2 separate regions of the Homo sapiens genome follow, and region 2 is linked to region 1. The links come from fine-mapping of genetic effects on gene expression. A gene starts in region 1. The other region holds a variant in brackets. All regions are shown on one strand. Distances are between the middles of the regions. Region 1 holds the start of ALDOC (aldolase, fructose-bisphosphate C). Region 2 overlaps SUPT6H (SPT6 homolog, histone chaperone and transcription elongation factor).

What was found. PIP is the estimated chance that this variant, and not a neighbour inherited with it, causes the effect.
Region 2: its variant is fine-mapped to the expression of ALDOC in whole blood (INTERVAL, PIP above 0.99).

The regions. Positions count from the first base shown.
Region 1 is chr17:28,572,722-28,584,719 of GRCh38, forward strand. It overlaps ALDOC (aldolase, fructose-bisphosphate C), which reads right to left and starts at 4,174. Exons shown (of 9, transcript NM_005165.3): 1 at 4,080-4,174; 2 at 2,700-2,823; 3 at 2,402-2,613; 4 at 2,231-2,285; 5 at 1,975-2,135; 6 at 1,773-1,856; 7 at 1,346-1,520; 8 at 1,014-1,213; 9 at 399-900. The coding sequence starts at 2,811. The coding sequence ends at 805. SPAG5 (sperm associated antigen 5) reads right to left here. Exons shown (of 24, transcript NM_006461.4): 11 at 11,931-11,998; 12 at 11,612-11,759; 13 at 11,429-11,531; 14 at 11,132-11,265; 15 at 10,790-10,928; 16 at 7,288-7,399; 17 at 7,030-7,116; 18 at 6,644-6,764; 19 at 6,420-6,531; 20 at 5,951-6,031; 21 at 5,652-5,807; 22 at 5,497-5,571; 23 at 5,289-5,369; 24 at 4,853-5,049. The coding sequence ends at 4,978. RefSeq lists a silencer at 4,107-4,346 and an enhancer at 4,397-4,576.
Region 2 is chr17:28,673,268-28,688,560 of GRCh38, forward strand. SUPT6H (SPT6 homolog, histone chaperone and transcription elongation factor) reads left to right here. Exons shown (of 37, transcript NM_003170.5): 2 at 104-243; 3 at 1,016-1,174; 4 at 1,270-1,346; 5 at 1,703-1,895; 6 at 2,134-2,218; 7 at 2,890-3,163; 8 at 4,448-4,549; 9 at 4,809-4,925; 10 at 5,278-5,367; 11 at 5,554-5,696; 12 at 7,989-8,137; 13 at 8,615-8,713; 14 at 9,460-9,589; 15 at 9,675-9,825; 9 more. The coding sequence starts at 135. Among named protein-coding and RNA genes, the nearest start is that of SUPT6H, 19 kb to the left of the region's middle. The variant C/A (reference allele first, on the strand shown) is at 4,418.

The DNA of each region.
Region 1 (11,998 bases):
GGCTTAACACTGCGAGATGGGAGAGACTCCCACCCACTCTTATCCCAGCCTGTCTTGCTGCCTCCCTGCTTTGAGCCTTGCACAAATCTGCCTTCAGGAGTTGCCAGTTTGGCCTCACTCCATACTTCTGTAGCTGCAGCCCAGTGCCACTGATGTGGCAGTCCCTAGAAGACTTGCAGTCTTCCTCATTGCCCCACTCCAGACTTGGACATCAAGAGAGCAAGAGCCTGAGCTGGGGATGGTGACTGCATGTGCCCTTCCTCCATAACTTGAAGCCCAGTAAGACTCAAATCCCACCCTCTCCACCTCCAGAGTCAGAGGGCCCAGAGATAGAATTAGCAGAGATCAGAAACTGGGAGGTGGGAATTTGATGTGTAAAACAGACAGGCAAAGTAGAATGTTTTGCTACCATTTATTTGCTGTATGGTATGTACTCAAGGCATGAGTCAGGGCTTCTGTACTACCCTCTGATCCCAGGAGACAGGGCAGGCAAGAAGGAGAGCCCAGGGAGAAGCTACCTCATCATGGGAAAATTGTGGGAGCTGGAAGAGGTAGGGGGAGACCCAGCCATCCTGTTCTGACTTCTAGCAATTTCTTCTGCCCTCAGTCATGAGGGGCTCCCTATCCTCCCATCCTATGGTCCCAGGTGCAGCAATGAGAGAGGGGAAGGGAAGAGAGAAAGGAAGACAAGTTGGTGCCAGGTGAAGGCATCTCTGCTCTGCATAGCTATTTGGCCCTGGCCATGACTACAAGCAAAAGTGGGTGCAGATGGCTGGGCCAAGGGCTGTGGTATGGAGTGGATACTCAGTAGGCATGGTTGGCAATGTAGAGTGACTGTGCTGCTGCTCCACCATCTTCTCCACTGCCTTCATACTTGCCCTGGGCTGCAAGCCCATTCACCTGCAAAAGGGAGCGTGGAGTAAGCAGGCTGAGCCAGCCCACAGGTGCCAAGCCCTGCCCAGGCTATAGCCTCTGGGTGCTGCCCCCACCCACCACCACCTGTAGCTCCCAACCTCAGCCCGCTTGATGAACTCCTCAGTGGCAGCCCCAGCATTGTCCCGTTGCCCTCGCCAGGCATTGAGTGCAGAGGCTTGCAGGGCACGCCCATAGGAGAAGGTAAGCGCCCAGGGTCGGGGAAGGGGGCAGCGGTTGATGGCATTGAGGTTGAATGATGCCTCTTCTTCGCTCTGACCCCCAGACAGGAAGGTCACTCCTAGTGTGGAGGAGAGAAGACAAACTGACTGGTCACTCCCAATTTTTCCAGGATAGGGAACCCCTGAAGGCCACAAGAAGGACCTGAAGATGGGCCTTAGGGATAGGAGCAGGTTAGGGAGCTGGGTAGTACCTGGGACAGCTGGGGGCACAGTGCGACGCAGGGCAGTGACAGTTGCCATGGCAATCTCCTCTGGGGTATACTTGATGGGACAGGCATGGCCCGGGGTCACCATGTTGGGCTTGAGCAGGGTCCCCTCCAGGTATACATGATGGTCACTCAGGGCCTTGTACACAGCAGCCAAGACCTGGGTGGGGATTAGAGGAGGTTTACTAAGGGTCTGGGCCCCCACTGGTTACTGCTCGATGCTCCCTATGTAGGGGTAGATGGGCACAGACTGTGAGGGCTCAGTACAGGCTCAGATCACAGGCCTGTGCCGGGATGAAGTGAAAAAGTGCTAGGGGAAAGTGTGCCTGGATCTAAGCTGGGGGTTCTGGGGAACAGACACTCCTGCCGAGCTGTCCCTGCAGTATGTTTGTGTGCCCAGGTGTGGACTCACCTTCTCTGTAACATACTGACAACGTTTGAGGTCGTGGTCTCCATCAGGCAATATTTCAGGTTCCACAATAGGCACAATGCCATTCTGCAGGCAAGAGCAGAGATGCTTGGGAGGGGCAGTAGGGGAGATGAAGAAAGCCTTGTGACTCTCTCCCCACCAGGCATACAGGGCACCTAGCTCACCACCCTCCCAACACACACACCTGCTGGCAGATACTGGCATAACGGGCCAGCACGTTGGCGTTCTCCAGAATGGCAAGTGCAGAGGGTGTACGCTCACTGATTTTCAGCACACAGCGCCACTTGGCAAAGTCAGCACCATCCTTCTTGTATTGGGCACAGCGTTCTGAGAGCCCATCCAGCCCTGCAAGCACAGTGCCAACCTCATTACTCTGCCCCTCTTTTACCAGCATCAACTATCTAACACCTCTTTGGTCCTCAAGCCCACCCATCCTATACCTTGAGTGGTGGTTTCTCCATCAGTCCCAGCTAGAGGCACCACACCCTTGTCAACCTGTAGAGGAAGTACAAGCAGAGGGTTGAATCCAGGCAGGATTCTCCTTGCTACCCCTCCTACACAAGCTTATTTTCACACCCAGCTTCCATTCAGAGCAGGGCCAGGGGCTGCACCTTGATGCCCACGACGATGCCCTTATCCTGGATGGTTCGGACGAAGGGAACACCATTATCATCTTTCTGGTAGAGGGTCTCATGGAAGAAAATGACGCCTCCAATGCACTTTTTCACACGGTCATCAGCACTGAACAGGACCTGGCGGTACAGCCGGCGGTTCTCCTCTGTGTTTTCCACCCCAATTTGGCTCAGCCGCTTGGCCATGCTGCCTAGGGGCAAACAAAGAGAGGCAGTGAGAACATCCCCAGGGTCCCCTAGCCACCTGTACCCTACCTGGCTACAGATGTCCACTTACCTACAGACTCATCCGCAGCCAGAATGCCTTTGCCCGGGGCTACAATCCGCAGGGCAATGTCAGACAACTCCTTCTTCTGCTCAGCAGAAAGGGCTGGGTACGAGTGAGGCATGGTGACAGCTCCCTGGAGTGGAGACAAGATAAAAAAGCCAGACCTCACCCTCTGCTGCCTCTCCTGGCCAGATGGGCCAAATGGCCTCCCCATCAAGCAAGGGGCTGGGAACAGGGCAGCAGTCCTTGGCATGAGTCCTGGGCATCAAGTGGCACCAGTCCTTCTGACAGCTAGCAAGCTTAGGGCTCCAGTTCCCACATCTCCTTTTGTCCCTGGTAGGCATCCTTCCCAGCCCTGGGGAAAGATGCAGGGTGGGGGTGGGGAGGTGAGCAGCCCTGAAGCCACAGCTCTTCTGATAAATCTGCTGCCCAATCAAGGATGCCAACCCTTCTTTCACTGAACTTGGTCCCTTGTTGAGGTAGGCAAAAGTCCTGGCCTTTCCAGCTTCCCTTTTCTCATCCTCCACAGGACCCCTAGGGAAAGTGTACTTACTTCCAAGGCTTCAGAATGAGGCAAAAGTACTTATTGCCACCCTCTTCTCTCAGCTTCTAGAGGAAAAGGTTGGAAGAACAGGTAGGGAGTAGGAGTGGCACAAATACCAGTCACAGGCTCCTGCAGCTTCTCCTTTTCTGTACTCCAAACCTGCCTGCCTATGCCTATTGCCTATTCCCACCCAGTACCAGAGGTTGGCCCCAGTGGGGCTGCAGTGATGTAGGAAAGAGGGCCCAGCGGGTCAGCTGTGTTAGTGTGTGGAGACTAGGGCTAGTGACACCTCCGGGTCATCTCTGTGCCCAGGAAGCACTTCACCTGTTTGGCAGGAGGATAGCAATAGGAAGCACTTCAATTCCCCACAACTCAGACACCCAGACGGGAGGGCAGAGGACCAAGGCTGAAAGGAGTAGAGAGCCTGAGAGAGAGATGAGACTGAGGGGAGCTAGTGGTGATGCAGGCTAACCAGTCAGCGGGAGAGACCTAGACCGGGGGGCAGAGAAGGCGGGAGAACTGGAGAGAGGACCTAGCCTAGGAGGAGAGGGAGCAGGCTGAGAAGGAAATGCTCTGGGTAGGAGAGACAGACTCCAAGGAAAAATCCAACAAGTAGAGGAGGATTTGGGATTGGAAAAGCTGAGGTCCAGCTGGGAGAGCTGAAGAGGGATAGAACAGAAGAGGTTGAGCCATGGGGTTTCAAGTACGCGGAAAGGAGCAAAGATGTTAGGAAAGGGTCGAAAGGGCACATCCCGGAGTCCCAGGTAGCAGGACGAGGATGGCAGGGGAAGAGCCAAGGAAATGAAGCGGAGATGTTGAGTGGCTCCCGCCTTGCCTGGCCTTACCTGTGCGCAGCCAGTTAGCAGCCGCAGCCACAAGCACAGCTCGGGTTCTGATCCGCAAACAGATGAGGCTGCAGCCCTGGCTCCCTCTGGTAAATGAGGCTGCGGATGTCGCAGAGCTACGTGACTCCTCCGGGGGCGTGGCCTGCATGCCCCGCCCTGACCACACCCCCTCCCCAGGACTGGTGTCCGGGGCAAGACCACGCCCTCAGAGGCGGGGCGGCGAGGTGGAGTGAGCGCCCCGCCAGGCATCCGTGGCTGTTAGGGACTGCCCTCCCACCTCGGGGAGCCTGGCCATGACCTTGCGTTCATTTCTGCCACAATCCCTTTACCACGTGCCGGGCACTTGCTGGATGCTGGGGATTAAGCTTAGTCTGGTGAAGAGGAGGCACCAGAACAGTAACAACAGGTTGAGTAGGTGGGGCAGAAGCATCTTCAAGGTGCCCAAGTTCAGGGCAGGAAGTAATGAACTGAGCTTCTCTGTCCTCACCCCCATATTTGCCAGGGTATACCCCCGAGGGGGCTGGGGAAAGTAAGAGAATGAAGCCTTTCTGTTTCCTCCAGGCGGTGAGCCAGGGAACAAGCAGTCCAGTGCCCAGAGTTTTGGTGAAAGCAGAGGAAGGGAGGAAGGGCAGGCAGCCTTGGCTTTGGATGCAGCAGGAGGTGGAGAGGGATCTATGGAGGGTGCCCAGGCAGGAGGCCCAAGCTGCTTCTTCCCTGACTTCATCATCCGCCCCCTCTCACCCAAAAAGTAAGATTCCGTAAGCTTGGAGAAATTCATTAAATACACTTTATTTAAATAGCATTTATCTCAGTTGGCTCTATGCCAGTTGGTCTTGGTATTGGGGTAAGGGGGTATTGCAGGTAAAAAGAGGTGAAGCAGATTCTGGCTTTCAGTTTCTTAGCTCAGAAATTCCAGCAATCCCTGTAGTTCTTTGCATCCCCTCACCACCTCTGGAATAGAGAGCAGGGTCTGGGAAGAGAGGCAGAAAACGCAGCTCAGGACCACAGACTTAAGGCCCAGGGCTCCCAGCCCCAGGAGGCAGCCGCTGAATTAGAGGGGAGAAAACAGACACCACAGAGAAGCCTGCAATAGTGATTCAGGCCCAGCTCTCAGCACAGGCTGGGAACCAGATCTGTGCTCATTAGTACCTCCTGGGGCCAGGCCTTGTACCAGGTTCATTAGTGATATCACCTCCCTCCTGCCTATACCTTATAAATATGCTGAACAATGTCATCTAGTTTTTCTAACTCCTTGTCAGAGCGCCGAAGGTTCTCCTCTAGGATATTTCTCTAGAAAGCAAACAGATTTTATAAGTCCTATGCATAAAAGAGCAAACTTGGTAGGACAGGGGAAACATGGCGGGGCATTTGTTAACGATGGTAGGAAATGGCCCTGGAATGGCATGGACATTCTTACATGGCTCTGGAACTTGATCATGAGTTTTTCCTTCTCATTTTTCATCTCCAGGAACATCACTCTCAGTTTGTCCACCTAGAAATATGTCCAGATCAACAGGGGTACAGCCTGGGGTCCCCACCTGCTGTCCAGCTCCTCTGTTAACTCTGAGTCACCTCCTGAGAGAGCCACACTTTCTCCTGGATCCAATTGGTGGCCATAGGCTGGCAGTTGGAGTCCAGCTGGCCTGCCAGGGCCTCCTGGAGCACTTTGGTCTCTGTCTCCGCACGCCGAAGTGAGCGGGTAAGGTGGGTCACCTCCTCTCTAAGGCTCTGGGAATGAGAATGGAGAGGTGTCCAATAGGACATAAGGATAGACAACATGTGGTGAACAAAAGCAAACCATTTCTCATACTTGGGATCCTGGCTGACCAGTAACACAGAAGGCAAAGGCCTGGGCATGATGGTGAACATACTATGAGCTCGCCACTCTTGTCTATCTGTTCTAGGATCTTCTCATTCTGCTGCTGTATCACTTCCTGGAGCTCCTTTTCATTCTGTGAGGGAAAGGGAGGTGAGAAGACACATGAAGAGCTGGTCTCTTCACAGCCCTTGCCAGGAGGTAGGAGAGAGTGCCTGACCCATGCTTAGCCCACATGGGACCAATTGATATCACGCCAATTCTTTCCCCAGGGCCAAGCCAGGCAAGGCACATTTCAGTGTTGGGAGAGCTCTGCTAGAGTTCCTGACTTCTCTCCTGAGTCAGCCTGGGAAGACAGGTCAGCCCATAGCTGACATGTGAAATGTCTGACCCCAGGAAGGGCAAAACTAGGGCAGTGGTTGGAAAATCCCCACCACCCAGATTCCTGGAGAGATAATGGCTCCCAGTGGGCCAGTAGAGCTGCCCCAGTTCTTCATCGCCCCACTTCTAGGTCCCTCCTTCACCTTGTAGCGCAAGCACAAGGCCTGGTTCAGCTTCTCTATGTCTGCTTCTTTTGCCTTCTGGACTTCCTGATGCTGTTCTTCCTGGGCCTGCAGCCTAGCTTGCAGCTCACAACTGAAGGAAGGAAGAATTTAGCAACATTCCTGTCCTCTCAGGGATCAGTTGGACCCTTGGCATAAGAGGATGTCTCACTGTCCCTCTGTCACCAAAACTGCATCCCACTCACATTTTTCGCTGCAGAGTCCTGATGGCTTCTTCTTTAGACTCTTGTAGCAGGGAACAAAGACTCTGAAGCTCAGTAGTCATAATACTCATTTCTGCCAGGCTCTCCTCCATGCCTGGGGTCTCTGAAAGAGAAAGTCCCAGATAGAGGTCTAGCCTTCCAGCCCTGGAAGGAAGGAGTGTATAGCCATCATTTCCACAACTCTTATCCGTGTTCCCCACCCACAGGATTTGAATGTCTGGAACATTACAGATCCCAGAAGGCAGAAATAAAATGAGCCCAAGTAGAATTGAGGTTTTTAGAGCAAAGCACTTCTCACTGCTTTCGTCTTTACTCATCACCACCAGATTTTCTAGAAATGAGGCAGGATCCCTGGAGCCCCTCCTAACCTGCGGGCTGAAGGGAAACCATTGATGCTACTCGGGTGAAAGCACTCTTGTCACTTCCAAGCAAGGGCACAGGAGTTGATTCTGGCTCTAAGAGAAAAACCAATAATGGGAGAGGGCCCCTCTGATGATCCAGGCAGGGGTCTACCATAATGGAAGCCAGGGTAAGATAGACAAGCCCGCTGGTGGACATCTTCAACAGCAGAAGATATCAGGAGCAGCGTCACAACTTTCCCACCCCCAAATCCCAGGGCCTTTAACCTTCATCTGCCACTGCTGTCAAGATGCTTCCCAGGAAGGTCCTGTCATTAGGCAGAGGGTGTTCCTGGGTGGGAGGACAGGCTGTACTCAGCAGAAGGGTCTCTTGTTCAGTCTAAGGGCAAAGAAGAAAAAATAGCTGCTGTTCAGGTCTAGTGAACTCCTGGGCTTCCAGGTAACTCCCAGCCATCTCCTCCAAAATGCTGTTCCACCTATTATCTCAATTCTCTATCTTCAACTTCTCCATTAGTGCCTTTCTCTGAACATGTTTATATTCTTAAGCCTCTCCAACAAAAACAGCAGTATTTTAAAAACAAACCTAAACAAAACAAAACAAAACCCTTCTTCTTACCTTAAATCCCCTTTTAGCTACTGCCTTTTCTAGAAAGAAAGGAAAGAAAGAAAAAAGAAAGAAAAAAAGAGCCTATACTTCTTGTTTATAACTCTCACCATCTATTGACTCCCCAGCCCACTACACTCAGGCTTCTCCCCTGTCATTCCACCTAAATTCTTGTCATTTGGTTCACCAATGGCAGCCTTACTTTCAAATGCAATGCATATATTTCAGCTCTTGTTTTACCTGACCTATTTGATATTGATGACCACATTGTTCTTTTAGAAACTTCCTTTTCTTAGCTTCCAGGACATGAGTCTCTCTCCTTTAAAGGCAGGCCCCACACCTTTCTGGTTATTTCTTCTCTATTCACAGGTCCTTCCTTAACTGCTGGATCCTCTGGGTTAAGTCCTTGGCCCTAAATTTACTCTAATTCATTCCCAGGGTGGCCTTGCCTTGGGAGCATCACAAAAACATCTACTTCAAACTTCCCTTCCACATGAATGACTCTTCCATCCCTCTCTCAACTTTTTCCCAGTCTTTTTCCCAGTCTGCAGACTCAAAGGCTAACTGCCTGTGAAGAATCTACCAGAAGGTTCCACAGTCAATCTGTCAACTTAGTATGTATGAAGCTGAGTTCACCATTTTCCCTGTGCCCTGATAGGGAACACCCTATCAAAAGTCTGTTCCTACTCCTGTATTTACTATTCTAGAGCAGGGAGAGGGAAGGCTAGCAAATTGTGGCCTACAGGTCAAATCTAGCCTGCCAACTATTTTTGTAAATAAAGTTTTATTGGAACACAGCCAGACCCATTAATGGCTGTATCATCTATGGCTGCTCTTGAACTACAAAGGCAGAATTGAGTAGTTGAGACAGAGACCATATGGCCCAAAAAGCCAAAAATACTTATTATATGGCCATTTATAGGAAAAGCTTGCTGGCCTCAGTCCTGAAGTAGCTGTGCTTGTGGCTGCGGCTGCTAACTGGCTGCGCACAGGTAAGGCCAGGCAAGGCGGGAGCCACTCAACATCTCCGCTTCATTTCCTTGGCTCTTCCCCTGCCATCCTCGTCCTGCTACCTGGGACTCCGGGATGTGCCCTTTCGACCCTTTCCTAACATCTTTGCTCCTTTCCGCGTACTTGAAACCCCATGGCTCAACCTCTTCTGTTCTATCCCTCTTCAGCTCTCCCAGCTGGACCTCAGCTTTTCCAATCCCAAATCCTCCTCTACTTGTTGGATTTTTCCTTGGAGTCTGTCTCTCCTACCCAGAGCATTTCCTTCTCAGCCTGCTCCCTCTCCTCCTAGGCTAGGTCCTCTCTCCAGTTCTCCCGCCTTCTCTGCCCCCCGGTCTAGGTCTCTCCCGCTGACTGGTTAGCCTGAGTCACCACTAGCTCCCCTCAGTCTCATCTCTCTCTCAGGCTCTCTACTCCTTTCAGCCTTGGTCCTCTGCCCTCCCGTCTGGGTGTCTGAGTTGTGGGGAATTGAAGTGCTTCCTATTGCTATCCCTCCTGCCACACAGGTTGAAGTGCTTCCTGGGCACAGAGCTGACCCGGAGGTGTCACTAGCCCTAGTCTCCACACACTAACACAGCTGACCCGCTGGGCCCTCTTTCCTAGCAATCTAAGGATCATCATTCACTCTTCTAACTTACTCTCACATCAAATTGGTCACTCTTACATCAAATTGGTTCTACTGCCTCTGCTTCCTAAATATCTATTGAATCCATTCACTCCATCCTCTCCTTTCTACTGCCTATAAAACTGCCATTATTTCAAGCCTTCAAAATCTGGCCTCCTGCCTACTTCTCCAGTGTTGTCTCCTGCCTTGCCCCACAGAGCTCTCACGCTGCAGCCATGAAGAGCTGCTTCCCATTCCTCAGACTTGCTGCATTCCATATGAGCAGCATCTTGCCTTGTTCATCCTCTAGTCCCAGCACCTAACCCAGGTTTTATAAGGTAGACACTATAAAAAAGAACACATCATGTACTATGTGCATGACTTTCTACGTACGACTCTCATATGTAGTCAGATGAAACTTTCATACACCGTTCCCTCTGCCTAGTGGGACTTCCTAAATACCCTCCCCTGCCCCACAAACGTCTAAACCTCAAGACTGTACCCAAGGTCAGCTGCTTTGAGAAGGCATCCTAATTCTCGAAGGCTGAAGTGGTGCTCCCCTCTCTATCTCTCACAGTGGTCCATGCAGACCTCTACCATGATCATAAGTCAAGATGACAAGTTTACATCTGTTTGTCTTCCATGCTAAACTGTAGATTTGATGGCATTTCCTGTGCTCGGTACCCAGTTGGGGAAGAGGATCAGGTCATAAGCAATTGCCAGATTTTAGGATATTTGTTGTGCCTTATCTGCTGAATAAGCTAATTACCTTTGTATTCTGAATGATGTCAACCATTTATTGTTTAGTGCACACTGCAGGGAGGCCAAAGAAGGCTATATTTCTGCTTTCTTGAAACATAGTCTGGTTGAAGAGACCAGGTATCCAAGGAAAATTAATACAAATACAAAAGAAGAGTAAGTTCATGAGAAATATGGCAGAAGAAAAGATCACCGGGTCCACATGATTTGATTTGGGAACAGTTCAAAGAAGGTAAACCAGGGAAGATTTCTTTTTTTGTGGGGGAAAGGGTTTCACTCTCACCCAGTTTGGAGTGCAGTGATACAAAAAAATTAGCCAGGTATGATCATGGCTCACTGCAGCCTCAACTTCCCAGGCTCAGGTGATCCTCTCACCTCAGCCTCCCAGATAGCTGGGACTACAGGTTCACAACACTACACCTGGGCTAATTTCTGTATTTTTTTGTAGAGATGGTTTTCACCACGTTGCCCAGGTCGGAAGGGAGGATTTTAATAGAAAAGGCATTTCCAGTTTGAAGAAAGAATAGAATGAATGTGGGAACAGCCAGAGTCTGGGTTCTGGGGATAAAAATGGGGACATGTGTGTAGCATACAGGCAGTCTAGCTGGGGCAAAGTGTTCATAATAGGGAGATAGGAGACAGGGGAAGAAAGGTTTGAGCAACAGGCTAATGAGGTCCTGTAGGTAACTGAAATCATAAAAGGTCACAGTTAGAAAAAGAGTAATGTTTTAGGAAGACTATCTGTAAAATAAAGATACAATTGGAAGAGAAGAGAAGGAACCCCAGGATCCTACCTTCTCCTTTAGTTTTGTCTGTAGAAAGAGAGTCAGGCTCTGTAGTTGCTCAGTCAGCAGCCCTAGCTTTTGAGAGTACTGCCGTGTTTTCTCCAGATCTTGCTCCTGGTTATCTGCTATGGTGCTGGCCAGTTTAGCCCTGAAATAAGGAACAGGGAAGATGACCAAAGACCAAATTACCTTCTCTGAACGCCTATCCCAAATCCCCACAGAGCTGCATTAAAGGAGAGAAACAAGAGGCTCAACACTCACAGTTCTCTTCTTGGAGATTTTGGCTTCTAGAAGTGTTCCTGAGAAAAAAATAAGCACTTAGGGGGAAGTACAGAAAGTTAGAGAACTTACGTTAGGTTCTCTACAGTGTCCTTGAGGTTCTCACACTGCAAGCTGCGCTCCCGGAGCACTTCCAGTGTGGTTTTCAATTGACACTCAACCTGACCCAGCTCCAGGTGAGCAACCTGATTCTCCTGGTCTGCAAACTGGGAAGACAAGAGAAGGAGCAAGACAGGGAGGGAGAATTTTAGTGCCCTGGGTACAGAGGCTTTTTCTAGTTCACAGTCTCAAACCTTACCTCAACACTATCAGGCAAGAATCACACTCCTGAGGCTTACCAGCTCCCTTGGCCCAAGCCATATTCCTTACCTCCAAGGTCTCTTTCAGGTCCCGCACCTCTTTGGCCAGGACAGCTTGTTGCTGCTGCAGTTCTGCCTGCATGTGTTTTAGTGCCATCTCTTCCTTTTGCCATCTGCCAGAGACAACATATTAGATCCCATTTGGTCCTAAATCCTGGATGCCTACTGCCACAGTACCCCGTTAGGAACTCACTGAGCAGCCTGCTCCTCATTGCTCTGGGTAAGCTGGCAGAGTAACTCATCCTTCATAGCCAGGTCCTGGGCACAATGGGTATGCTGACTCTGTAGCTCTTTTAGCTGGCTGTCCATGTTGGCCAGAATCTGCAACTGAGCCCGGAGATCTAGAACAAAAGTATCCTAATGACACCATGCGGTCAGCAGGCTAGAAACTCCCCAAACTTCTGCTCCAAAGCAAGTGCTCCTGAGTACTTCCTTGCTCTAGTGCCACACTCCAAGCCTTAACAGGGCTCAAATGCTTACATGCATGCATACACACACACACACACAAACACCTGTTGCTAGACGACTGTTTTCCAACTCCAGTTGTTCTGTTTGGCCTTTGCACTCCTCTAACTGGGCA
Region 2 (15,293 bases), 100 kb after region 1:
AGAGCAGTGGCAGGTTGCTAAAAGGCTGTTTGTGGGAAGGTTTAAGAGCCCTCTGTACAATCATGTGTCCGTTTTTTTATCCTTCACTCTTTTCTTTCCCTAGTTATCTTCAGGCAGAGTGAGAAGCTGCAGCAATGTCTGATTTTGTGGAAAGCGAGGCTGAGGAGTCAGAGGAAGAATACAATGATGAAGGCGAGGTGGTACCCCGAGTCACCAAGAAATTTGTGGAAGAGGAGGATGATGGTGAGGAGGCCCCAGCCTCAAGCTTCTCCCCACTATTGCTAAGCTTTGGATAGTTGGATTCTTGCTGATGAAAAGCTCAGGCTCAGCACAGAAGTTATCACACATGAGGTACCAGCTTGAGAACTTTCAGTCATTCTTAGCAGATACTAACTGAGCATCTGTCTGTATGCCAGGCACTAGGCCTGGAACTAGAAATATAAAACAATAAATATCCAGCTATTGTGGAGTTTACTTTAGTTGGGGGGTGGTTGATAATAAATCAGTAGATAAGTCTGTATATAATACTTTCTGCTTTTAGACCTAGCATTGTTGATATTTATTCACCTCGTTTCCTATTTCTCTGGCCAAGCCCAATCTTTAGAATTGTCAACAGAGTAGAACCACGAAATGACTTCAAAGGGGTAAAGGGACGTACAAGTTTTATCAAAGGAATTATGGCAAAAAAAAGGAATATAGCTGCTGAGTTTACAAACTGAGTAAAACAAAGTTATTGGTGGCTATAATAATCTAGTAATGATTTTGAGAAGCCAAAGTGACGGGGAAGATCATCCTGCCCAAAGACAGATGGTGAATGTAGGGGAAGAAAACATTCTTTCCAGATGCTGCTACTCTAAGTCAATGGCTATGTTTTGCATCTTTACATGAGGCAGAAGAGTTAACATGGCACCCAGGTCATTAGGTGCAGAGCAAATGGATAATCACATTAATCAAGTGACCCTGAACCTCTAGCCTGTTTTTCAGTCTCCATGCCTCAAACATGCATGTCTTCCAGATGAGGAGGAGGAGGAGGAGAACCTAGATGATCAGGATGAGCAAGGCAACTTGAAAGGCTTTATCAATGACGATGATGATGAAGATGAAGGGGAGGAGGATGAGGGCAGTGACTCTGGTGATTCAGAAGATGATGTTGGCCACAAGAAGAGAAAACGCAGTGAGTAGTCTGTCGTTGGCTCAAGTGAGGCTTGGGTGGAGGTTGCAGTGGAAAAGGGCAACCCCATCACCATGGGCAACACTTTGTTTCTTCAGCCTCTTTTGATGACCGCCTGGAGGATGATGATTTTGACCTCATTGAGGAGAATTTGGGTGTCAAAGTCAAAAGAGGAGTAAGTGTCATTCTTTGTCTTTTGTCCCTGGGGGTAAAGGAAAAAGCCCTGGAAATTTCAATGTCTGTGGGTGAGGAGGCACACGCAGGACAGTTTGGAGAACATTAGAGCACGGTGTTCGGTATCATTGTACTACGGAGCCTAGATTTGCATCCCAGATCTGGGTGCCTGTTAGAGAAAGTCTTGTCCAAGTTTCAAGGATGGGCTTTGAGGCTACAAGAGCATCACTCGGCATGTTCTTTCCCATCTCTCTTGGTCAGAGTAATTGTGGTGGGAAGAAGGGAGTGAGACTGGAGATTTGGTATCCGTATGCCAGACTCCTCAGATCCTGATAAGGCAGGTTTTCCCACCCCTAGCAAAAGTACCGGCGTGTCAAAAAAATGTCAGATGACGAGGACGATGACGAGGAGGAATATGGCAAGGAGGAACATGAAAAAGAAGCTATTGCGGAAGAAATCTTCCAGGATGGGGAAGGGGAAGAAGGGCAGGAGGCCATGGAGGCCCCCATGGCTCCTCCAGAGGAGGAGGAAGAAGATGATGAGGAGTCAGGTATGTTATATTGGGCAGGGAAGCCAGTGTTTGGATGGGTATTGGGATTTCCTGGCCCATGGGAACAGGATGGAAACCATTCTTTAGCTACATCCCCCAGCATTTGACACAAAGAAGTTCCTTTTCAGGAGCTTCCCTTCTCTGTTGCTCACTGGCCACTCACATAGTAGGAACCAAAGCAATTTAGTCCTGGCTCAGCCCCTGACTCTGAGCCCCAACCCATCCTTTTCCTACCCAGATATTGACGACTTCATTGTGGATGATGATGGACAGCCTCTGAAAAAACCTAAGTGGCGGAAAAAGCTTCCTGGATACACAGACGCGTGAGTGGGGTCTGGTACAAGGTGGGGATAAAGTGATTGAGTGGGCCCAGTCAGGAAGGAGGAGATCAGAGGCCTTTGCCAAAAATGGGGCATTCCCAGCTTGCAGCCATTTTGCTTCCCTGCCTCAAATAACCTCTACCAGGCAGTGATTTCAGACTGCTCCCGGAAGCCCTGGGAGCTGTCTCTGCACTCTAGGACTACTGTGGGATTGGAGTAGAGTCCCACATGGGCAAGGCTCCAGCATTCCTCTTCCGCCTACAGCTCCATGTTTATTCAATTATATATATATTGACATTCTTAATATATTTTTGTTGGAAGACAAATGCCCGCATCACAATTTACAAATTTGAAAGCTTTTGCCCTGAGGGAATACTGTAATGCCTTAGCAGAAGATGGGTCCACTGAGCAAGACATAGACCCGTCTGCTCTGTTGCTATTTGATTACTGTCACTCGAAGGTGCCAAAGATGAGCTTTTTAATCTTCCATATACAATAGTTTGCCCAGAAATATCCGCCAATGAAGCCTTTCGTCCACAGTGAATATGGTTATTTTGTTTACCTTCCTCCTAACCCTCTCAGTTCCCTTGGGACAAGTAAAGGATCTATGCAAGGGCTGCATTTCTCTCCTCTCACCTGAACCTGAGCCACCTGCCTCTTGCTGCCACCTACAGGGCCCTGCAAGAAGCCCAGGAAATCTTCGGTGTGGACTTTGACTATGATGAATTTGAGAAATACAATGAGTATGATGAAGAACTGGAGGAAGAGTATGAGTATGAGGATGATGAGGCTGAGGGTGAAATCCGAGTGCGCCCCAAGAAGACCACCAAGAAGCGTGTGAGCCGTAGGAGCATCTTTGAAATGTATGAGCCCAGTGAGCTAGAAAGCAGCCACCTCACAGATCAGGACAATGAAATCCGAGCCACTGACCTGCCTGAGAGGTTCCAGGTAAAAAACCACCAGCCTCTGCTCTTCTACCAATCCATAATTACCTTGTAGCCAAGAAATATTCTAGCAAAAGTCTGGCATTGAGTATCCAGCACAGGTTTGAACCTCATCTCACCTGGGGCCTGGGAAATCCAGCTCTTAGAGAAGGGAAGATAGACTCTACCTTGCTTACGGTTCTAGAAATACTGTTTTCTTTAGAAATCTGTGAAATGCAGTCTGGGTGCTGTGGCTCACACCTATAATCCCAGCACTTTAGGAGGCCAGGGTGGCAGATTGCTTGAGTCCAGGAACTCAAGACCAGCCTGGGCAACATAGGGAGATCTTGTCTCTACAAAAAATACAAAAAACTAGCTGGTTGTGATGGTGCACACCTGTAGTTTCAGCCACTCAGGAGGCTGAGGTGGGAAGATTGCTTGAACTTGGGAGGTCACGGCTGCAGTGAGCCATCATTGCACCACTGCACTGCAGCCTAGAAGCAGACCCTGTCTCAAAAAAAAAAAACCATGAAATGCTTATGGCCAGGCACGGTGGTTCACACCTGTAATCCCAGCACTTTGGAAGGCCAAGGTGGGTGGATCACCTGAGGTCAGGAGTTCGAGACCAGCCTGGCCAACATTGTGAAACCCCGTCTTTACTAAAAATGTAAAAAATTAGCTGGGCGGCCAGGCACGGTGACTCACGCCTGTAATCCTAGCACTTTGGGAGGCCAAGGTGGGTGGATTGCCTGAGCTCAGGAGTTAGAGGCCAGCCTGGGCAACATGGTAAAACCCTGTCTCTACTAAAATACAAAAAAAAAAAAAAATTAGCTGGGCGTTGACAGCATGCATCTGTAATCCCAGTTACTTGGGAGGTTGAGGCAGGAGAATTCCTTGAACCTGGGAGGCGGAGGTTACAGTGAGCTGAGATCGCGCCATTGCACTCCAGCCTGGGCAACAGAGCGAGACTCCATCTCAAAAAAAAAAAAATCAGCTGGGCGTGGTGGCGGGCACCTATGATCCTAGCTACTCAGGAGGCTGAGGCAGGAGAATCATTTGAACTCCGGAGGCGGAGGTTGCAGTGACCCTAGATCGCGCCGTTGTGTTCCAGCCTGAGCAACAAGAGTGAGACACCATCTCAAAAAAAAAAAATGCTTATTTCATGCCAGAACAACACTGGTATGGCATTTGTAGAACAATACTGGAAATGTGCACTTGATGATCACACGTTTCTGTCCAAAAAGGTATGTTTTTCTTAAGTGAGACACAAGATAAAGTC[C/A]GTCTCACCCTGTTGTCTTATCCACTCCAGCTCCGCTCCATCCCAGTCAAGGGGGCTGAAGATGATGAACTAGAAGAAGAAGCTGACTGGATCTACAGGAATGCTTTTGCCACACCAACCATTTCTCTCCAGGTACACAAAAAAGATCCTTAGGTTTTGACATGAACCAAAAGACACTTCATCAAGATGGGGAGCTCTTCCTCCCCTATTTCATACATCCGTGTGCCTGGTATTAGAAAACTGTGTGTATGTAGTCCCAACAAGTGTGTGTATATGAGAAAAATTTTTTAGATTTCATCTAGAAAGGTTATCCTTTGTTATTAAGCAGTCTTGTATGGTAAGACAAACCAAGTAAACATTGTCTTGCTATTTCTTTATTTTCCTACTGTAGGAAAGCTGTGATTACCTAGACCGAGGGCAGCCAGCCAGCAGCTTCAGTCGGAAAGGGCCCAGCACAATTCAGAAGATCAAAGAGGCCCTGGGCTTCATGCGAAATCAGCATTTTGAGGTAACACCTCAAGCTCTGGTGGCCCATTGGTGAGAAATTTAGTTAGGGGATGAGGGAAAAGATAATTACCTAAATGAGGTGGGAGCCCCCTTCCCGTATCCCCTATCCATGACTCAACAAGTGTTAGGACCAGCAGAGACCCTAGTGATCGTAAGAACAATGCTACCCTGTCTGCAGCTTTATTTTCTCCTATTGAGGAAAGCACCAGGCCCTGGAAGGGCTGTGAGGGAGGCCAGGCTTCTGACTGTTGAATTTCCTGGAGCTGTTTCTCCAGGAAGTCATTATCTACTGACAGAGGGGATCTTAGCAAATCTGTCTTCTCTGAGTGACTGCAGTCTCTTTGCCATCCTAGGTGCCTTTTATTGCCTTCTATCGAAAGGAGTATGTGGAGCCTGAGTTGCACATCAATGACCTATGGAGAGTCTGGCAGTGGGATGAAAAGGTAATGTAGATCCGTGGCCCCCAAGAGGTGTGGGCCAGGGAAGGCACCATTACTACCAGGATACCACAAACCCAAACCCCCCAGGCCTGTCTAGTCCTCCCCCACTAGGTTTCTGGTAAGGATCAGAGCAGCCTTGAGTCTCCAGGGCTGAACACAAGCTCTCATTCCTGCCCTACTTCACCTTAGTGGACCCAGCTGCGGATCCGTAAAGAGAACCTAACACGGCTGTTTGAGAAGATGCAGGCTTATCAGTATGAACAGATCTCTGCTGACCCTGACAAACCTCTTGCTGATGGCATCCGGGCTCTGGACACCACTGACATGGAGAGGTAAAACATGCGGTGTTTATTCCATTATGGGAAGCCCTCAGACCCCAAGGCTGGCCCTGCAGGAGCACTGTTAAACCTTGGAGAATGTGTAGCACAGGGCCCCATCCCTTAGAAATCCAACTTGTCAACCAGGCACAGTGGCTCATGCCTGTAATCCCAGCAATTTGGGAGGCCGAGGCGGGCAGATCACTTGAGGTCAGGAGTTCAAGATCAGCTTGGCCAGCATGGTGAAACCCCATCTCTACTAAAAATACAAAAAATTAGCTGGGAGCAGTGGCACACGCCTGTAATCCCAGCTACTCAGGAGGCTGAGGCAGGAGAATTGCTTGAACCTGGGAGGCGGAGGTTGCCGTGAGCTGAGATCGTGCCACTGCTCTCCAGCCTGGGCAACAGAGCGAGACTTCGTCTCAAAAAAAAAAAAGAATTATAGCTTGTCAAAGCCAGGCGTGGTGGCTTCTGCCTGTAGTCCCAGTTACTTGGGAGGATGAGGCAAGAGTATCACTTCAGCCCAGGAATTCAAGGTTGCAGTGAGCTATGATTATGCCACTATACTCCACACTGAGTGAAAGAGCAAGATCCGGTTTTTTTTTGTATTTTTAGTAGAGACAGGGTTTCAGTGTGTTAGCCAGGATGGTCTTGATCTCCTGACCTCGTGATCTGCCCGCCTCGGCCTCCCAAAGTGCTGGGATTACAGGCATGAGCCACTGCGCCCGGCCGATCCTGTCTCATAAGAAAAAGGGGGCTGGGGCCTGGCACGGTGGCTAACGCTTGTAATCCTGGCACTTTGGGAAGCCAGGGCGGGCGGGTCATGAGGTCAGGAGTTCGAGACCAGCCTGGCCAACACAGTGAAACCCTGTCTTTACTGAAAATACAAAAATTAGCTGGGCGTGGGGACAGGCGCCTGTAATTCCAGCTACTCGGGAGGCTGAGGCAGGAGAATTGCTTGAATCTAGGATGCAGAGGTTGCAGCGAGCCGAGATCGTGCCACTGCACTCCAGGCCTGGGCGACAGAGCTAGACTCCATCTCAAAAAAAAAAAAAAAGAAAGAAAGAAAAAGGAGGCCAGGCGCAGTGCCTCATGCCTGTAATCCCAACACTTTGGAAGACTGAGGTGGGCAGATCACCTGAGGTCAGGAGTTCAAGACCAGCTTGGCCAACATGGTGAAACCCCGTCTCTACTAAAAATACAAAAAATTAGCTCGGTGTGGTGGCAGGCACCTGTAATCCCAGCTACTCAGGAGGCTGAGACAGGAGAATCGCTTGAACCTGGGAGGTGGAGGTTGCAATGAGCCGAGATCGTGCCATTGCACTCCAGCCTGGGTGATGAGCAAAACTCCATCTCAAAAGAAGAGAGGCTGGGCGTGGTGGCTCACACCTGTAATCCCAGCACTTTGGGAGGCTGAGGTGGGCAGATCACCTGACGTCAGGAGTTTGAGACCAGACTGGCCAACATGGTGAAACCCTGTCTCTACTAAAAATACAAAAATTAGTCGGGTGTGGTGGTGCGTGCCTGTGATCCCAGCTCGCGAGGCTGAGGCAGGAGAATCTCTTAAACCCAGGAGGTGGAGGTTGCAGTGAGCCGAAATCACGCCATTACACTCCAGCCTGGGTGACAAGAGCAAGACTCCATCTCAAAAAAATAAATAAATACGATATGTTCTAGGGCTATCATGTGTCTTGGTTTTGTTTTTGTTTTTGTTTTTGTTTTGAGAGGAGTCTCACTCTGTCGCCCAGGTTGGAGCGCAGTGGCACGATCTTGGCTCACTGCAAGCTCCACCTCCCAGGTTCATACCATCTGCCTCAGCCTCCCAAGTAGCTGGGACTACAGGCACCTGCCACTATACCCTGCTAGTTTTTTGTATTTTTAGTAGAGACGGGGTTTCACCGTGTTAGCCAGGATGGTCTCTATCTCCTGACGTCGCGATCCCTCCGCCTTGGCCTTCCAAAGTGCTGGGATTACAGGCATGAGCCACTGCACCAGCTATGTGTCTTTAAAAAAGAAAAAAAGAAATGGTCTTTCTTCTGTTGCCTAGGATGGAGAGCAGTGGTGTGGTCACAGTTCGCGGCAGCCTCAACCGCCCGGGTTCAAGTGATCATCCCATCTCCAGTCTGGGCAACAGAGTGAGACCCTGTCTCAGAAAAATAATAACAATAGTAATAATAATTGGAAAAAACTGGTTGGGATCCCATTTTAGTTGGGATACTGCCTTTTGGGAATTGGACCTCTTGTAGCCAAATTGGGATATACCCTTTCTGCAGTGATGACTGAAACCTTATGTCTCTTCTTTTTCAGGCTCAAGGATGTCCAATCAATGGATGAGCTGAAAGATGTCTACAACCATTTTCTTCTTTATTATGGCCGAGACATCCCTAAGATGCAGAACGCCGCCAAAGCTAGCCGCAAGAAGCTGAAGCGTGTCAGGGAAGAGGGAGATGAAGAAGGTTAGTGCTGGAAAAGAAAATCCAGGAGATTTGATGGCCATGCATGATGGCTCACGCATGTAATCCCAGCATTTTCAGATGCTAAGGTGGGTGGATCACCTGAGGTCAGGAGTTCGAGACCAGCCTGGCCAACATGGCAAAACCCCATCTCTACTAAAAATACAAAAGTAGCCAGGGTAGGTGGCACATGCCGGTAATCCCAACTGCTCAGGAGGCTGAGGCATGCCTGAACCTAGAGGCAGTTGTTGCAGTGAGTTGAGATCATGCCACTGCACACCAGCCTGGGCAACAAACCGAGGCTGTGTCTCAAAAAAAAAAAAAAAAAATCAAGAAAGAAAACCCAGGAGACTTGACAGCCCATGGCATCTTGAAGGAGGCCCTTGGCTGGGTACCCTTTGAGGCTTCTCTCCTAATGTGTCAGATCCTTGGGAGTGATTGGAAACTAGAACCCTAAATCTCCCCATGTTTTCTTCCCAGGTGAAGGTGACGAGGCAGAAGATGAGGAGCAGAGGGGGCCTGAGCTCAAGCAAGCCTCTCGCCGAGACATGTACACCATCTGCCAGAGTGCTGGGCTAGGTAAAAGCTAGCTGCTTTGGGATTTAGGCATTCTAGCCTGAGCAAGGGGAGTTACCCAGAAAAAAGACTGGTAGGTAGGAAAAAGAAAGGCTATCTGGGTCAATCACCAATCCAATCCTGAACTAGCCTATTAGCTGGTCTTTAAAAATACTCCCTCTCCAAACCCATTCCCGCCCGACATGATGGTTCAGCCTCTCCCTAATTTCCTGAGATAATGGGAAACTCATGATTGGAGGGAGAGAGTCCAGTCTGTCTGTTTCTTCTGCCTTATAACAGCCCATCAAGTGTTTAAAATCAGTTTTTTCATTGTTCTTTGACTACCTGGTCCTGCTCATTTATGGCCTCTTTAAATTCCAGTGCTCTAGCTGGGCACAGTGGCTCACGCATGTAATCCCAGCACTTCGGAGGTCAAGGTGGGAGGATCACTTGAGCCCAGGATTTGGAGGCCAGCCTGGTCAACGTAGCAAAACTACAAAAAATACAGAAAAAATTAGCCAGGAGTGGTGGGACACACCTGTAGTCCCAGCTACTCGGGAAAGCTGAAGTGGGAGGATCACCTGAGCCCAGGTGGTTAAGGCTTCAATGAGCCATGATCACACCACTGCACTTTAGCCTGGGCAACAGAGCGAGACCGTCTCAGGAAAATAAAAAAGGCTAGTTCCCAGAATTCCAACTCCAGATTCTGAAAGCCAAGAGGTTTATCAGCCTATCTGCTGCCTTACCCTTCACTCTTCTGTTTGCTTTAGATGGCCTGGCCAAAAAGTTTGGGCTTACTCCCGAGCAGTTTGGGGAGAACCTGCGGGATAGCTACCAGCGGCACGAGACAGAGCAGTTTCCCGCGGAGCCCTTGGAGCTGGCCAAGGATTACGTTTGCAGGTAGGCATGCAGCAGGTGGCTGACAGGAGGAGGGGCCTGAGGACCACAACACCCTGGTCCTGTAGCTGCACCATTTTCCCCACAGCCAGTTCCCTACTCCAGAAGCTGTGCTAGAAGGCGCCCGCTACATGGTAGCCCTGCAGATTGCCCGTGAGCCCCTTGTCCGGCAGGTGCTGAGGCAAACCTTCCAAGAGAGAGCCAAGTTAAATATAACCCCCACCAAGAAAGGTAGAAAGGTGAGCTGGGTGAAGGGCTTTGATCCAAGATGTGCACCAGCTCTTTCTTTGATTGCCTGAGTTTCTTGCCTTCCACTTCACTGAGCTGTGTGTCTGAAAGCAGAAAGGCTGTCTTTTCTCCTGGGGCCTGGCCCAGCCCATCCGCAGGCTCATGATTCCCCCTTCATGTGTGCAGGATGTGGATGAGGCCCACTATGCCTATTCCTTCAAGTATTTAAAGAACAAGCCTGTTAAGGAACTGAGAGATGACCAGTTTCTCAAGATATGCCTGGCTGAAGACGAAGGGCTCCTCACCACTGACATCAGCATAGATTTGAAGGGAGTGGAAGGGTAAGCAGAGCCCTGGGCTGGCGACTCTCTGGGGAAGGCCTGATGAGGAGTCTGGTGGAGGGAAGGGCCCCTCAGGAGTGGGGAACCACAATTTCAGAGTTGAGCAGGCTGTTGTCTCTGGCTTGCTTAGAATGTTCATGGACATTGGGTGTCACCTTTTCTCCATTCCTGACACCATAGCTTTGTGTCTCTTCTCAGCTATGGCAACGACCAGACATATTTTGAGGAGATAAAACAGTTTTACTACCGAGATGAGTTCAGCCACCAGGTGCAGGAGTGGAACCGGCAGCGCACCATGGCCATCGAACGGGCTTTACAGCAGTTCCTCTATGTGCAGATGGCCAAAGAACTCAAGAACAAGCTGCTGGCTGAAGCCAAGGAATATGTCATAAAGGTGAGGACAGAGACTCATGATTTTTTTTTTTTTTTTGGTGACAGAGTCTTGCTCTGTTGCCCAGGCTGGAGTGCAGTGGCGCAATCTTGGCTCACTGCAAGCTCTGCCTCCTAGGTTGATGCCATTCTCCTGCCTCAGCCTCCCGAGTACCTGGGACTACAGGCGCCCACCACCATGCCCAGCTAATTTTTTATATTTTTAGTATAAAATATGTTATATTTTTAGTATAAAATAACATGGTTTTACCGTGTTAGCCAGGATGGTCTCAATCTCCTGAACTCATGATCTGCCCACCTTGGCCTCCCAAAATGCTGGGATTACAGGCGTGAGCCACCACGCCCAGCCGAGACTCATGATTTTTAGTCATATGATTTCCCCAAACTATAGTTGGGCATGAAGGAACCCCTTAGGAATAGTCCCATAGCTAATGGAGAAACACGGGGGGCAGGTGAAGCATAATCTGAGAGGGAATGCTAACAAGGCCACAGGGACCACCTCTAAGACCTCTCTGCTCCAGGAGCTTCTCCCCTCCCCCAGCCCCACTCATCCAAACATTCTTTGTTTATATCACTGTTCTCTGTATACACTCCTGTTTCCACAAGCAAGATATGCCTTCAGGTGGTAAGCCTGCCAATGGCTAGGAACATCTGCACATAAGAGTACACACCCTCGCACATGTGTGTATGAGTGTGTTTCCATAGCACTCTTGGTGAGCCTGATGACCATAATGTCATCATGTATGTAATACCTGTTGTGTCTCTTCCCTCAGGCCTGTAGTCGAAAGCTCTACAATTGGTTGAGAGTGGCACCCTACCGACCAGATCAGCAGGTGGAAGAAGATGACGACTTTATGGACGAGAACCAAGGGAAGGGCATTCGAGTCCTCGGCATTGCTTTCTCCTCTGCCAGGTAACAGCCTATTTTTGCCTCCCCAGCACCATCTCTTGTCTTCCTAATTTCATTTTTCTCTCATTCATAACTTCATATTGCTGATTATTGCATTCTTGTTTTTCTGTCTGTCTGGCAGAGATCACCCTGTGTTCTGCGCCCTGGTCAATGGTGAAGGAGAAGTGACAGACTTCCTTCGACTGCCCCATTTTACCAAACGGCGAACTGCATGGAGAGAGGAAGAGCGGGAAAAGAAGGCAAGTGGCTAGGACGAGGATACTAAGTGTACATCTGGAGTATGTCTTATGATTCAGTGGAGATAAGTGTTTACGGTCTAAGCAACATCCTATGCAAGACTGATTGTGTCTGATCTGGTCACTGACTTGTCCCCTGGGATGCCTCACTTCCATGAGCAGTAGATGGCACTCAAGTTATCTAGTACGGGATTTGCTTCTGGCTTGAGGCCAGTTCCTAGGCCTTGTGTGCTTCTGGAGTTGCTTTAACTGCCTCTTTTCTTACCAGCATCTGGGTCAGGCTGTTCCAGCAGCTGAAAGCTACTGAGGCATGAAGCCAGCCTTTTCCCTGCTTTAGCCTTTCAGGGTGTCTTTTTTCCAGGGAAAGAAGACTTTCAATTCATTTGGTTGGTATATTTCTGAATTTTGTTTATCCTAATGGTATCTGTAGTATCTTTCAGTTTTGTTAACAGAGCCCCATTCTTGAAAGAAAAACTTCTTAAGAAACAACTATTTTTTAAATTTTATTATTATCATTATTATTATTATTATTATTATTATTATTATTATTGAAACAGAGTCTTGCTCCATCTCCAGGCTGGAGCGCAGTGGCAAGAACTCACCTCACTGCAACCTCTGCTTCCCAGGCTCAAGTGATCCTCCTGCCTTCCAAGTAGCTGGGACCAGAGGCGTGCACCACCACGCCTGTCTAATTTTTGTATTTTTTGTAGAGACACGGTTTCACCGTGTTGCCTAGGCAGGTGTCAAACTCCTAGACTCAAGTGATCCATCTGCCTCAGCCTCCCAAAGTGCTGGGATTACAGGTGTGAGCCACTGCACCCAGCCCTTAAAATCTTGAAATGGAGATCAGAATATCTAATAGTCCTAACTACTCACATTTTAGCAAAAGTCACACCACAAATGAAATAGCCACAAAAGGAGGACATGCAGGAGTGTGAGGCAGTGGAAAGTAAATCATAAGAAACTGGACATCTTTAAGATGAAGGAAATCATACTTAACCATGTTGACCTTTTCAAAGGGCCCTCACCCAAAAGAGGGCAGCTACTAGTTCTTTGTTTTGCTTCATCAAAACTAGAACCAATGGCTAAGTATTAGATTTTGGTTTACAATAAAAAAGAACGGTTTCCTAACTTCATCCTTGGGACCTAGCCAGTGGCACCTGGTACCACTGGAGCGCAGTTCTAGTCAGTGGAATTATTAAGCAGAGGCAGGGTTGGCCAACTTTCAGGAAGAGGTGGGAATAGTTCCTTGGTAGCACCTTGGACCAGATATCTTCTGAAGACTTCCAGTTCTTACAAGATCTCCAACATAGGGAGACAGAATTTCCTGAAATCTTTACATCCTCAGAGCCATTCAGCTTCAATTTTCTTTCAATCCAGGCTCAAGACATTGAAACGCTAAAGAAATTTCTCCTGAATAAGAAGCCTCATGTAGTGACAGTTGCAGGAGAGAACAGGTAGGTAGGGATTAGACCACACCTGGTTTAAGGCCGTGACCCAACTCATCCCTTATTATTGAGTCTGGCATATGCCCATAACAGATGGGGCTTGTGCTTGTGCAGGGAGTGTCCCTGGGGATGTTTGACCTCATTTTCTTCAAAGCCCTTTCCTCCCCTACCTCTTCACCCCCAAGGCAGTCATGAGACTGTCCATCCCTAAGAAAACATATTCATTGACCAACACTCATCCCACCAGGGACGCCCAGATGTTGATTGAAGATGTGAAGCGCATTGTACATGAGCTGGACCAGGGCCAGCAGCTGTCATCTATTGGGGTAGAGCTGGTTGACAACGAGTTGGCCATTCTCTATATGAACAGCAAGAAGTCAGAGGTAATGCTGGAGCCTCACCCTTAGGGCCTGCCCAGGCAAGTGCTATTAATCCCAAAGAGATTAAATTGGGAAACAAAAGTTATCAGGGGCACAGGACTGTACCTGTGTACTTATCCATGCAGAAGTTCTCCGTTTTGCAGTTACGGTTCAGATTGGGAGTCCCAGAAATTAAATCGGTCTCAGGAAAAAAGATCCCAGAGAAGCAGAGAAAATGATTTAAACCAGAATGGTTTGGATTTCCTCTTGATGTTGTAGCTAAGGGGATTTTAAGGCCCTGCTGACCCTCGTTTGACTCTAGGCAGAGTTCCGGGATTATCCTCCAGTGCTGAGACAGGCCGTCTCCCTGGCCCGGCGCATCCAGGACCCTCTGATTGAATTTGCCCAGGTGTGCAGTTCCGATGAAGACATCCTGTGTCTCAAGTTTCACCCCTTGCAGGTGAGTAGGATTTGACAGGCAGGCTCGGGTGAAGGGAAAGGCAGAGTAACCTTACTCCTGCCTGCTGAATGTCCACAGGAGCATGTGGTGAAAGAGGAGCTGCTCAACGCCTTGTACTGTGAATTTATCAACCGAGTCAATGAGGTCGGGGTCGATGTCAACCGTGCCATTGCCCACCCTTACAGCCAGGCCTTGATCCAGTATGTTTGTGGCCTGGGACCTCGGAAAGGGACCCACCTCCTGAAGGTAGGATTGGAGTGAATTCAGAAATTTTAAAACTTGCCATTTCATTGAATATGAATATATACTTTGTCAGTATAATTTGACAGATTGGGAGGACCAAGGTCAGTGACTTGTCCAAAATCACTCAGCTAGTGAGAGTCAAAAGAGTCTGACTTCAGACCCAGTTGGCCAAAGCTGTGCCCTTCACTGCTGCTTGCACCACCACACCCAGCTAATTTTTTGTATTTTTAGTAGAGACGGGGTTTCACCATGTTGGCCAGACTGGTCTCAAACTCCTGACCCCAGGTGATCCACCCGCCTCAGCCTCCCAAAGTGCTGGGATTACAGGCATGAGCCACTGCGCCCGGCCAACTAGTGTTAACTTGTAACTTATAAGCCATACATTAGTTGTATATGGTCTTTGGTGTAGGTATAACATCATTTATTTGTTTATTATTTTCCCATTTAAAGCAAAACTTTTTTTTTTTTTTTTTTAATTTTGAGTGGTCGATAGCATGCTGTAGTGCTCAACTAGATACTGGGTGGGACAGAGTTTTTGTTATGAGGGTTTAATAGAGACTGGAACAGTCTGGGGAGGTGGGGCCTGCTTACTGCCCTGGCTCAGTCCAGCTCTCTCCCCCAGATCCTGAAGCAGAACAACACCCGGCTCGAGAGCCGGACCCAGCTGGTCACCATGTGCCACATGGGTCCCAAAGTCTTCATGAATTGTGCTGGCTTCCTCAAGATCGACACGGCCTCCCTGGGGGACAGGTGATGCCCTCTGCCTGGATGGGGCAGGAGGAATTCCCTTGTGGGCTTTGTTTTCGGGTTTCAGGGGTTAGGGCTATCAAAGGGCCACAAGCCATTTTAACTTAGGAAATGTTTTAAAGAAAAGGTAAGGAACTTTATTCAGTCAAGAGCCCCTGACCTATGGAAAAGATCGGTTCAATCATGTGAAACATTTTTCGTGTGAGAGAAACATAAAAAGTACCAGCTTAGCTTATAAATTAAGCATGGAAAACACAAGATTTTGTTCAGTAAACACAAACTTGCTTTTTTATTATTATGGTTTGTTGTGGCCAGATAAGGGTGGGAATAGCGGGGGCAATGAAA